Regions from separate parts of the Homo sapiens genome. Here region 2 is linked to region 1. The links come from fine-mapping of genetic effects on gene expression. A gene starts in region 1. The other region holds a variant in brackets. All regions are shown on one strand. Distances are between the middles of the regions.

Region 1 (5,370 bases):
TCCACATAAACAAATTTCCACAGATCAAGGCAAAAGATAACCATATCACATTGCAGTGAAGTCCATAAAACACCTTCCCACTTGATGGCTGGACCCCTTGATTCCCATAGTCGGACACTGTCTATTCAAGAAGCACACCATGTACAGGGATGCAGGGTATCTGACCAGCCATGTCCACTTGGGTCTCCTCATTTTTGTTTAGACCTGTTTTCCAGCCTCTGGACCAGGTATCTACCATTTGGTAGGGTGGACAGTGATGGCCAAGCTCAGAACACTCCAGGAGCACAAGGCATTAAGAACTGCATGATGTTATGGTTTCTTCCTAGCGCTCTCAGGACTCGGGGTAGATAAAACAGAGCATTTAACCTCCATAGGTAAATATTTAAAGATTCACATGAAGCAGTCAAGAAACAGCTCCAGACCAAGAAAGAAATAAGCACAACAGAAGATGTACACTGTAATGATTCAGACGGCCAGGGAGGTACTTAGACACCTATAGCCTTCTTATGCCAATCTACATAAGTATCACGGATCAAGCTTCTAACTACACAAAAGGCTGATTAAAGCATGCACTGGTCCCATGCAAATGTGAGTTTGTGTGTTTACGGGGGGTTGGTTGGAAGATTCCCTCCTTCTCAGGGGTTCTATATCAAAACTTCCTGAGTGAACTGGTAAGAAGCAAAGACGAATGGGAGTGTGTGTGTGTGTGTGTGTGTGTGTGTGTGTGTGTGTGTGCTCATAAGCAAGCACATACACATCCAAGAAAGAGGGTAATCTTACCAAATGGTAATATAACTGAACCTGTCTCTATACCAGTGTTCTGAGAGAGTTCTTATTCATTCAGCCTGAAACTCTGGGGAAGGCAATTTATCTTCCTGCTGCTGTAGGGAGCCTTGGTGAGAAGCACACAACCATATGAATACATGAGTGTGTGTGTGTGTGTGTGTGTACATACATTATCATTATACACAGGCATTAGTATGCACATACAAATATGAAGAAGGAGCCCCTTCGGTTTCATCAGGAGGACCAGAAGCAAAGTTTGAACTGCACAGATAAGGAGAAAGTCTGCAGTGACCACAAGCACGGGTGGAAGAGCAGAAGAAGGAAGCCAGGTTTTTGCTTATATTTGGCTTCTCCCCGACAGGGGAGAAACAGAAGACATGCTGTTTGCTTGCAAAGCCAGCCACCCATGGCAGTGCTTTGCTTTCTCGAAAACTTTTACCCTTCATTTAATCAACAGATGGACGTGCTCTGTTGTGGATTTTTTCTGAGTCTTGCACCTCTAAGAGCTGTGTTGGCTGGCACAAATGCAGCCTCAGATGGCAGAGGTGCATTGGCATTCCAAAAGAGCGGGAAGGAGCCCATGTACTTGCCCCTCCAAACTCAATTCCACAGGTGACTTTTGATGCCTTTGGCCAACTAGGCACTCACATTCCCTCTCCCGAATTTCCCTCTCCTTTCTGCACCACTACCAGCCCCAGGGCTCCCAGTGGCAAGGAGCCTAGAGGTGGCAAAGTTCTTTCCGGAGAGTCCACCTGCTTCTCTGCCCCTGCTAGGCTGCAGAAAGGAAACCATCAGCACCACGGGCGAAATTTCATTTTATACCCTGAATTCAGTGCTGTGTAGGATTCAGAATTCAACCTAATTTAGGGAACTCGATGACGTTCAATGAAACTCTTTACAAGCTTTTCCCAACCACTGCAAATTACCCCCCACAATACATTCTGTAATTGCAACCCCCTTTTCAACGGTGCAAACCACACACATTCGCTTTTGAATACACTTGTGCAAGTCAAACCCTATTCAAGCTGAAATATCCACCTAAACCAAGCTCTCCCTCCCTGCCGTCTCCTTCCCTGGCCTGGGTCTGAAGGAGAGGAGGTGCCCAGAAGTTCAGAGCGGCATAACCACAGAGATACTACCTAATTAACATACCAGAAGCATAAAGAACTCATTTGCATTGGAGAGTTTGAGCTGGATATTGACAAGTGAGAGGAGAAAGTCATTCCCCTCCCCTCCCATACCCCTTCTTTCCAAAGGAAAATAAACAGTACCATTTTGTTGCATTCGCAAAGGCGAAGAGGCAATGCCAGAGCATCTCAGCCCGGCACCGAGAGACGCATCCATCAGTCCGAGTTCCCGAAGCCTGCCCACGTTCCTGCCCACAGCCTCCCGCGCCCTGACAACCCAGCCGACTTTCTTCCAACTCCAGCAGCGCAGGGGTCCTACCTTGACTGAAGAGGAAGAAGCAGACGAAGAGCAGATCGAGCTGGAAGGGTTTCATTCCTTAGCGCAGCGAAGGAAAGCCGGCGGGGTAACTTGGCTGTGGTTAGTTTCTCTTCCTTGGCGGCTCTCGGTGCTCAGCCTCCGCCGGTCCTCTCGGGTTCGCGCCTACCATCTGTCCGTCCGTGGGTCCCTCCGGGTGGCTTCGGTCTCTTTGTGCCTCTGGGTATCTGCAGCCAGCCGACACAAACTGCCTGTTCTTAGCCGCCTCGGGAAGCCGGGATTGTCAGCAATGTCCCCACTCGGAGAAGATCCATTCTCTGGCTCTTGGCATCCCAGGCACACGGCTTCCTCAGGCGGGCTCCTCCCACAGTGAGCGAGCGAGCTAGTGACGAGTGACAGAAGGACTCCTTTCACTGAAGCTGAGGCGAGGGGAGAGGGAGGGGAGACAGGTCATAATTAAAGAGGAAACACTCGGAAAAAGGAGATCTATGCAAAACGGACAGTGGGGGAAAAGGCTGTGTTCTTTCTTTTCCCTAAATAGGGAAAAATTCAGCTTTTGTCACCATTATTGACCAAAAGGCATCTTGAGCTTGGAGTGGAGCTGTGACTTTTTGTCCACACGATGTCCTGTTTAACAGTGAAGTTAAGGATGACTATCCACATGCATGTGCACAAAAACATGCACGCCCTGCCTTTGCAAAGGAACTGGAAACTGGGCTGAAAGGGAACTAGGAAGGGGGGGTGCGCATCTTTCCCTCGGAAGGACTTGGCCAATGTGTGCAGCGGGAGGCTCGGAGTTGGAGAAGAGATAAGCATGCTTTGCATTTCTGAGAGTTTCCTGTGGGTGGGTGGGTGGTTGTGGTGGGGGGGGGGGGTAGGTAATAAAACCTGAACATTTGGATCTTAGTTTGCTTTGCACTGCTCCTGGAAGACAAAATGCAGGAACTAAAGGGAAGGCAAGTAGGCTTGTGACACACACCCATTTATTATCATTATCCTGGTTTGTGCATTTCCTAACGAGGACAGGGGAGCAGCCTGTCTTTGCATTCAGAGCCTCTCCTCTAATGAGCGCTCCATCACTCTGAGCCTGTCTTTTCTCCAAGAGGTGCTGTGAGTCCAATTGCAAAGGAGAGGCCAAGGTCATAGACAACTGCGTCCTAAGGATCTTCAAGCCTTTTACCTGTCATGAAATTCACACTCCACACTCAAATCAAACTCGGTTTCCTCCAGGATATCAACATGAATTTATCTGGGTCTATTTACTTAATAGACATTTAGGCATGCTTGGTATAAGCAGGCCATGGAGGGAAGCAAAATAATAGGCACAGACCATGCCTTCAGAAGCTCATAATCTAGTGTGCAAGCAGAGTACACACACAAGATGCAAACTCTAAGGACATAACAAAACAACACAGAAAAATATTCAACGTTATGCACTGTGAGAAGGAGAGGTAAAGAGAGAGGAGAGGAAAATGAAAGACGCTCCCCTGACATGTGCCATTTAGCATTCAATTCTAAAATCAGTCATTACTGTCTTCAGTCCCTGGACCTTGGGGAGGTCTTTTGGGAAACTCTTAGCCTTTCCTCTTTCAGTAGTAGCACATCTTTTGAGGACTCTGCTCACTACAAGGCACATTCCAACTCCAAGTTTCCATGCGGATGTTAACTTTAAAAAATTATCCCTTGGTATTTGTGAACAAGAAAGAAAGAAGCAGGGGCATATAGAAGTGTGCTAGTAGGAGCTGACATCTGGTAGTTGACACCAAAGATCTACAAATTAGTAGGTGTCTGCTTTGTTGACTTTTCTATTCTTAACTTAATAGTTTATTTAACTGCATCCCTTAGAGGCTGTTAAACACAGCAAAGGGAAATTTGTAAGCAAACTTTGGGAGGAGAAACAGAAATGTTGAGCAACAGAAACTAAAAGGACACAAAAGAGGCAGCCCATTAGCTAAATTAACAAACAAGTTACTGAAGCAGTGTCAGCTGAGCCTGAGTCCATTAGCCTGGTGTAACAGATCATGCAATAAATGGAAGAGGCAAATCAAAAACACACAGAGGAGATGAAAAATAATTTTAAATAACATATGCCAAATAACACAGTAAGACTGAAAATAACTCTATGTATAGCGCCGTCACCTTAGTAGTAGCTTTGCATTAAGCCTATGGGGTTGTTGGGGAGAAATTTCAGGTGTCTGCGTGCCATTCTTGCAGGGAATAGGACAAATACTAGAATGCAGATTCTCTATCAAAGGTAGCAACATTTGACGTTTTAACTAAAGATTTATCCTTTAAGCTGTTGTTTAATTTTGAGTGCTAATTCCTCAATGGCCCAGGGCCCAGATTTGCTTAATTCAGCCCCCGAGGGAACTATTACAAAACCAGGGTCACAAGGCTAGTGAAGTGTGCAATACGCAATAATCAGGCACACGTACAGGTGTCTGCACTCCACACTCGCACTGACTCTTGGAAAGAAGAGGGGGGCCTGGGAGATCCAGGTTGGAAGGATCTTGTTTCGCTCTCCCATTGGCCCCCAACACTGGCCTCATGGCCCCCTTACTGGCTCCAGGCATCCCCCTCACCCCCACCAACGAGCCAGCTGGGCCTGTTCCCCTCTCCACTCCCCTCTACTCCCTCCCTGTAACCTCCGGTCTCCCGCAGAAAGAAAGAAAAAAAAAAAAGCTTGGATTAAGTGATGAGCTGCCCGCCTCTAAAAGGACCAGGAGGCGTATCAAGCCTGAGTGCCGGAAAACCCACGGCAATCTTCAGCAGCCACCACGTGGGGCAGAGAACGCGAGCAGTACCTGCAGGACCCACAGCCGGTCGGGCTCTGGCGCCAGCCTCGACGGCGGCCCCGCCATCTCCGCCCGGCTGCCCGCGGCCTCACCTCCTCCGGGGGCTCGGTTAGCCTCCTGGCGCTGCAAGGCTGCCTGCGCGCGGTTCGCTCCGGGGGAGGGAGGAGGAGGGAGGCGGCGAGGAGCCGACGGCTCCACCTGATGGAGAAGCGCGGAGAGTCCCTAGACCTCGGAGTGCGCTGCAAGAGGGGAGAGGAGAGAGACCGCCGCCCCTGCTGGAAGCCTTCGCGTCCGGGGGCGGCGCGCGGGGGAAGGGGTCTCTGGACAGTCGGTGGAGGCGGCAGCC
Region 2 (5,370 bases), 530 kb before region 1:
GCCTATATAAATCCTTTCAACTTTCCAAAGCGTTTCACTCCCTGATCTCATTAGAGTCTCAATCAAACCATAGGTGGGACAGATACCATTATCTCCCATTGGATAGGGGAGGAAATAGGTGGGCTAGACAGAGGCTATGGAGCTTGACCAAACTCACATTTCAAGTTGGTCCTGAAATAAGTACTAGTCTCCTACAGCAGGTTGAATGGTGTCCTCTCCAAATTCTTGTCTACCAGGAACCTCAGAATATGACCTTATTTGGGAATAGGGTCTTTGCAGTTTAGTTAAGCAATTAGTAATTAGTTAAGGCTCTTGAGATGAGGTCATACTGGATTCAGAGTGAGCCTTAAACCCAATGACTGGTGTCCTTGGAAGAAGAGAAGAGAGTCTGCTGGGTGTGGAGGCTCATGTCTGTAATCCCAGCACTTTGGGAGGCTGAGGTGGGAGGATTGCTTGAGCCTAGGACTTGGTGACCAGCCTGGGCAACATAGGAAGATCCTGTCACTACCAAAAAAAAAAAAAAAAAGAAAAAAATTAAAAAAAAATTAGCCAGGCATGGTGGCTTGTGCCTGTAGTCCCAGCTACTTGGGAGGCTAAGGTGAGAGGATCACTTGATCCCGGAAGGTTGAGGCTGCAGTGAGCTGAGGTTGTGCCACTGTACTCCAGCCAGGGCCACAGAGTGAGACCCTGCCTCAGAAGAAGAAGAAAAAGAAAAAGAAAAAGAAGAAGGAGAAGGATAAAGAGAAAGTGAAAGAGAAGAGGAGGAGGAGGAGAAGAGGAGGATGAGGAGAAGACAGAGAGAAACAGAGAAGGCCAGGTGAAGGTGGAGGCAGAGATTGGAGGGATGCTGCCACAAGCCAAGGAATGCCAGGAGCTGCCAGGAGCTGGAAGAGGCAAGGAAGGATTTTCCCCTGGAGCCTTTGGAGGGGCACAGCCCTGCTGACACCTTGATTCCAGACTTGTTGGCTTCTACAGCTGTGAGATAATTGATTTCTGTTGTGTCATGCACCGAATTGTGGTGCTTTGTAATGGCAGCCCTAGGAAGCAAACCCATCTTAACTGCTGGTCTCCCACCTTCCCAGGTCATTGCTTTTCTCTACTGGGCCACAATGTCATTCCGAAGCTAGTTCCCCATTGTGGCTGCTACCTCCTTCCCTCTCCTGTTCCTCTTTGCAGCTACTTCCCCATCACTTTGGGGCGCACTAAGTCAGGTGCACCCCGGGGAGGGTGTGCTGAGTGTGTGTGGGGGTGCACTTCCAGGTTGGGATTGGGGTCTGGTCAGTATGCAAAGGCTTCTGCTACTAGGAGGTACTAGGAAGGAACCTCACTATGGGTGCAGTCCTGTTTCCCCCGACTGGAGCCAGGGAGTAGATGAACAGACCACTCCTCCCTCAAAACCTCCCATAAAGTGACAATGGCAATGTCTCTAATTCTTATGAGGGCCCCGGAAGACAGCAGCATTATCTTTGATTAGCCAAAGAGAAACCTGTGTTCCAAGTGAGCCGGGAACTTGCTGGGTGGAGCTAGGATTTGCACTTAAGAATGGGTGAACCCTGAGCCACAGCCTCTGCTGCAGCCCCGGGGGTGCTGGACGGTGGGTACCGTGCTCTTGGCAGGACAGATGGGAACAGTTAGGGCCACAGGGAGAAACCTGTAAGCTCCTAGAACCCCACATTCTGGGTCCTTAATTCAGTGAGGTTTTTCTCAACTTGGGGCAAACCTCGTGGCGTCAGGAGAACAGGGCCAGAGCCTCTATATAGAACAGCACATCTTGCTGGAGGCAAAGCCGGACTGTGACATTCTAGAGAGCCACGCGGTGCAGCTGCAGGCCTGGGACTCAGGGTGCCAGCCACGGCCCTGGGCAGAGGGGCTGGAGGAGAGTGACGTGGCCAGATGCAGCAAGCCGGGGGCAGGACCACTGCAGAGGAGTGAAGTTGAACCCCAAGCCAAAGCCCGGGCAGGGAGGGAGCAGCAGCTGGCACCGCTTTACCACCCTGCCTTGGGCTCTTCAGCAGACCTCATCGAGTCTATAAATAGCCAAGTGATAATAAGAACAATTTCCTGGATGAAACTAAGACTTCGGGTAGGGCGCGCAGGGGCGGGGAGGTGGTGAGGAGCAGGTTGGTATTCTTCTTCTCTTCTTTACATTTCCGTTGTGCTAACAAGGGACATTTACATAAGCTTGACTCTGCCAGGAGCCCTTCCAACGGATGGGCTCTGGGCGGTGGGTGCCAGTGGCAGGGGAGGGAGGGGACCCAGCTCTAATTAGGCCCTCTGACTGCTCCCCCTCCTCCCTGCACCCAGCGTGCTCCTCCGCCTCGGAATGATGATTAATGACATATTTACTGGGTCCAGGCGTGTGCTTTTCTGGGAAATAAAAATTCTGGTTCAAGTTGTTTGTTCCACCTAATTAGAGAAAAAGGGAGATGTGTTCATTAAACAAAAGGAGGGTGAGGGGAAGGCACGTGCCCCAGCACCAACACCCTCTCTGTCCCCGTGGAAGGTCCCAGCACCTCCTGGGCCCCTAGCTCGCGGGGGACCCCAGGCCCCGTGCAGCGGGTATCCCAGGGAGGAAGGCTGGGTCTGCCAGCTCTGCTGCAGGACGACTGAGGGGAGGAAGGTGGGACAGAGCTGGGGGGCCCAGGGGGAAGGCTGGAGGGAGCCCTGCACCTGCAGGACAGGGCGGGATGTGGAGGGGCACGGGGGATCTGCACCCCCGGGTTTCTCTTCCCCCATTCCTTTCTGATCTCGCCTCTCTTGTTTCTTTTGCTTCACTCCTTTTCAGAAATGAATCTCCCCTAATTGTCACTTTTCTCATATGCAAATGGAGCCTCTGGACTTTGCAGCCTTGAAGGTACTGTCCAGGAGAACATTCTATCATCTGCAGGTTCTAGTCGCAGCTCCACTCCGCCCCTCCCTTCCCTGCTTCCCTTCACTGAGCTTGGCTCTGGGGACACACCATGGGCATTGAACCTCCCACCTCCTGCTTCAGAAAGCTTCATGCCTTGCAGGT[G/A]AGCTCCAGAAGGAAGTGAGTTATTCATGGTGGGCCACTCACTGTGGGAGCCACCGCCTCCAAGGCCTCCCTCCAGTGTGGTGAGCACTAACGTGCTGCCAGCCCCCGGCTCGCCCAGGTTGCCCATGTGACTGCCATGGTGGCTCCCAAGAGTCCCCGAGGACCCAGCTCCTGTGTGTGCAGATATGGGCCAGGGGCAGGCATATAGATGGCGTGTGTGCAGCATGTGTCCGGGAACGAGCGTGCCAGGGCATACACCCCCGTGGGTATGTGCGCGTACCTGTTTTTGTCTTTGGGTGTTCATGGGCCTCTGTCCACTGACTGCCGTGACTCTGCGGGGCCCCAGGTTCTCTCTGGACGCTGCCTGCTCAGGTGCCGCCTCAGGGCTGTGCACCCACCCCCACTGCCCCTCCCTAAGGGCAGGGATTTGGCACTCACTTCTCTAGTTCCCCAGCACCGGCCTGGGAGGCCGGTCTTCCCAGGTATGGTTGTACACAGTGTACCCCACCCCATGGTTTTCCTGCTTGGGTGGCAGTGGCTGGCCACTCTGCTCTTTCCAAAGCCCCCAGGGCCTCCTCTGGGCAGTGGAGAGCCAGGCTGAGCTCTCGGAAATGGGTGGGCTGGAGGGCAGACAAGGGGTGGGGGCCCAAGCACTGGTGCTAAATATGGGGTGCCCGATGACAGGCAAACCGTCTGGAAAGGCCGAGAGTAGCCTGATTGCCTGGCAGCAAGGCCGCCTCGCTTCTCCCCGCTACTCACCTTCCCCACCTGCTGGGTCCCTTTTTTTTTTTTTTTAAAAAATCATGGCTCTGCTTCCCCTTTTGATAGCTGCTTGGGGCTCCCCATGGGCTGGTTGCCACCTGGCTTGAATAAGGGTGTGTGGGCCAGGTGGAGGATGCGCAGTGCTTTTTGCCCCAGTCCCTGCATCCAGCCTTGAGGCCAGAGGCCAGAGGGGTGCCCTTCACAGAGAAGGCCAGGATGAGCCTCGGCCACACCCAGTGGAGACTCTAGGCCCCTAAGCTGGGCAGATAGGTGCAGGGTGATGGGTGAGTGACCAGGGAGGGGGTGCCCAGTGGAGGGTGAGGGCCCTATGCATGTGGGCACTTATCCCTTTCCTGAGTGGGGTCTCCAGAGCTCCTCTTAGCAAAGGTGGTAAAAGGCGAGGCCAGTGGTCCTGGTGGTAGGGGTAGAGGGCAAGGGGCTCCAAGCAGACACAGACACGACTGTGCGTGCTAAGACCTTGCAACCCTCCTGCCTGGCAGGAAGCTGCACTTAGGAAGGGTTCTTTCTGGGCTCAGCCTGTCCTCTCGCCCCTCCTCTTCCGTAACCCATCCTTCCTCCCCTGCTGTGTGGACTTGGGGGCTTTCCAGAAGAAAGAATGTGGTCTCCACTCTGGCGCCAGGCCCTCAGAAGTATGAGGAACAGGGAAGGAACCCACTGTCCCCAGACAGCCCAGGGTTGAGTCTCCAGGAAGAAGCTTGGAGGGGCCTTTTCCTGCTCTGTGCCTCTGCAGCCGACACCCGCTGGGAGCCTGCAGTGGGCACTGCCCAAGGCCCCATCCGGCAGTGTGGCTCGCCCTGCACCCTGGAGGCTGTGACAGTGGCCTGTTAAGGAGAAGCATGGCCAGCCTGTGCTGGGGGAGGGACTGGGTGCTTCCTCTCCTGCCCTTCCTCCTGGGGAAGGGGCCTGGTGCCCTCCAGGGCTGAGGCTCATCCCTCCCCTACTGGTCCCATGGTGGAGTCACAGAGAGAATGGTCGGTGAGCAACCCAGAAACTTTGAGAACAGGCCTGGTGTTTTATGAAATAGCTGTATGACCCCTGGGGCAGGGAACTGGGGTTCCCCCTGTGGGACAGGAGCCAATAATAGTAGCTCACATTTATCCAGTCCTTACTCCTGCCCTTGACAGGGTGCTTCTGATGCATAATTTCTTGTAAGTCACTCTGCAACCCTAACAGACATCCGTGATCATTATCACTGCATTTTGCAGCTGGGGAAACTGAGGCAGAGGGTGACATCACCATGTTATGTTACGGATCCCAGGTTTGAGCTAGGCCTTCAGAACCATGTGGCCAGCCTAACTATGACACCGATGTCTGCATATGGGAAACGCGAGGTCCATAGTGGGGTGGACCTTGCAGCCGTGTGGATCCAGTGAGGGGGTGACAATCCCAACAGCAGTGCTTGTTGCAAGCTCGCTATGTGCCAGGCGTGTTTCTCATTCAACTCCTCACAAGCACCCCTTAAAGTGGGTGCTGCTGTCGTTCCCATTGTATGGCAAGGACAGGGAGGCACGGCAAGGTGAGGTCACGCAGCTGGAAGGTGGCAGAGCCCGGATCCAAATTCAGGCTGCCAGCTC

What was found.
Region 2: its variant is fine-mapped to the expression of KIRREL3 in whole blood (TOPMed, PIP above 0.99).

The regions. Positions count from the first base shown.
Region 1 is chr11:126,998,223-127,003,592 of GRCh38, forward strand. KIRREL3 (kirre like nephrin family adhesion molecule 3) reads right to left here and starts at 2,548. Exons shown (of 17, transcript NM_032531.4): 1 at 2,233-2,548. The coding sequence starts at 2,287. It overlaps KIRREL3-AS3 (KIRREL3 antisense RNA 3), which reads left to right and starts at 4,688. Exons shown (of 3, transcript NR_040078.1): 1 at 4,688-5,370.
Region 2 is chr11:126,463,837-126,469,206 of GRCh38, forward strand. All of the region lies in intron 5 of KIRREL3 (kirre like nephrin family adhesion molecule 3), which reads right to left. Among named protein-coding and RNA genes, the nearest start is that of KIRREL3-AS1, 77 kb to the right of the region's middle. RefSeq lists enhancers at 1,851-1,910, 2,458-3,007, 3,008-3,555. The variant G/A (reference allele first, on the strand shown) is at 3,014.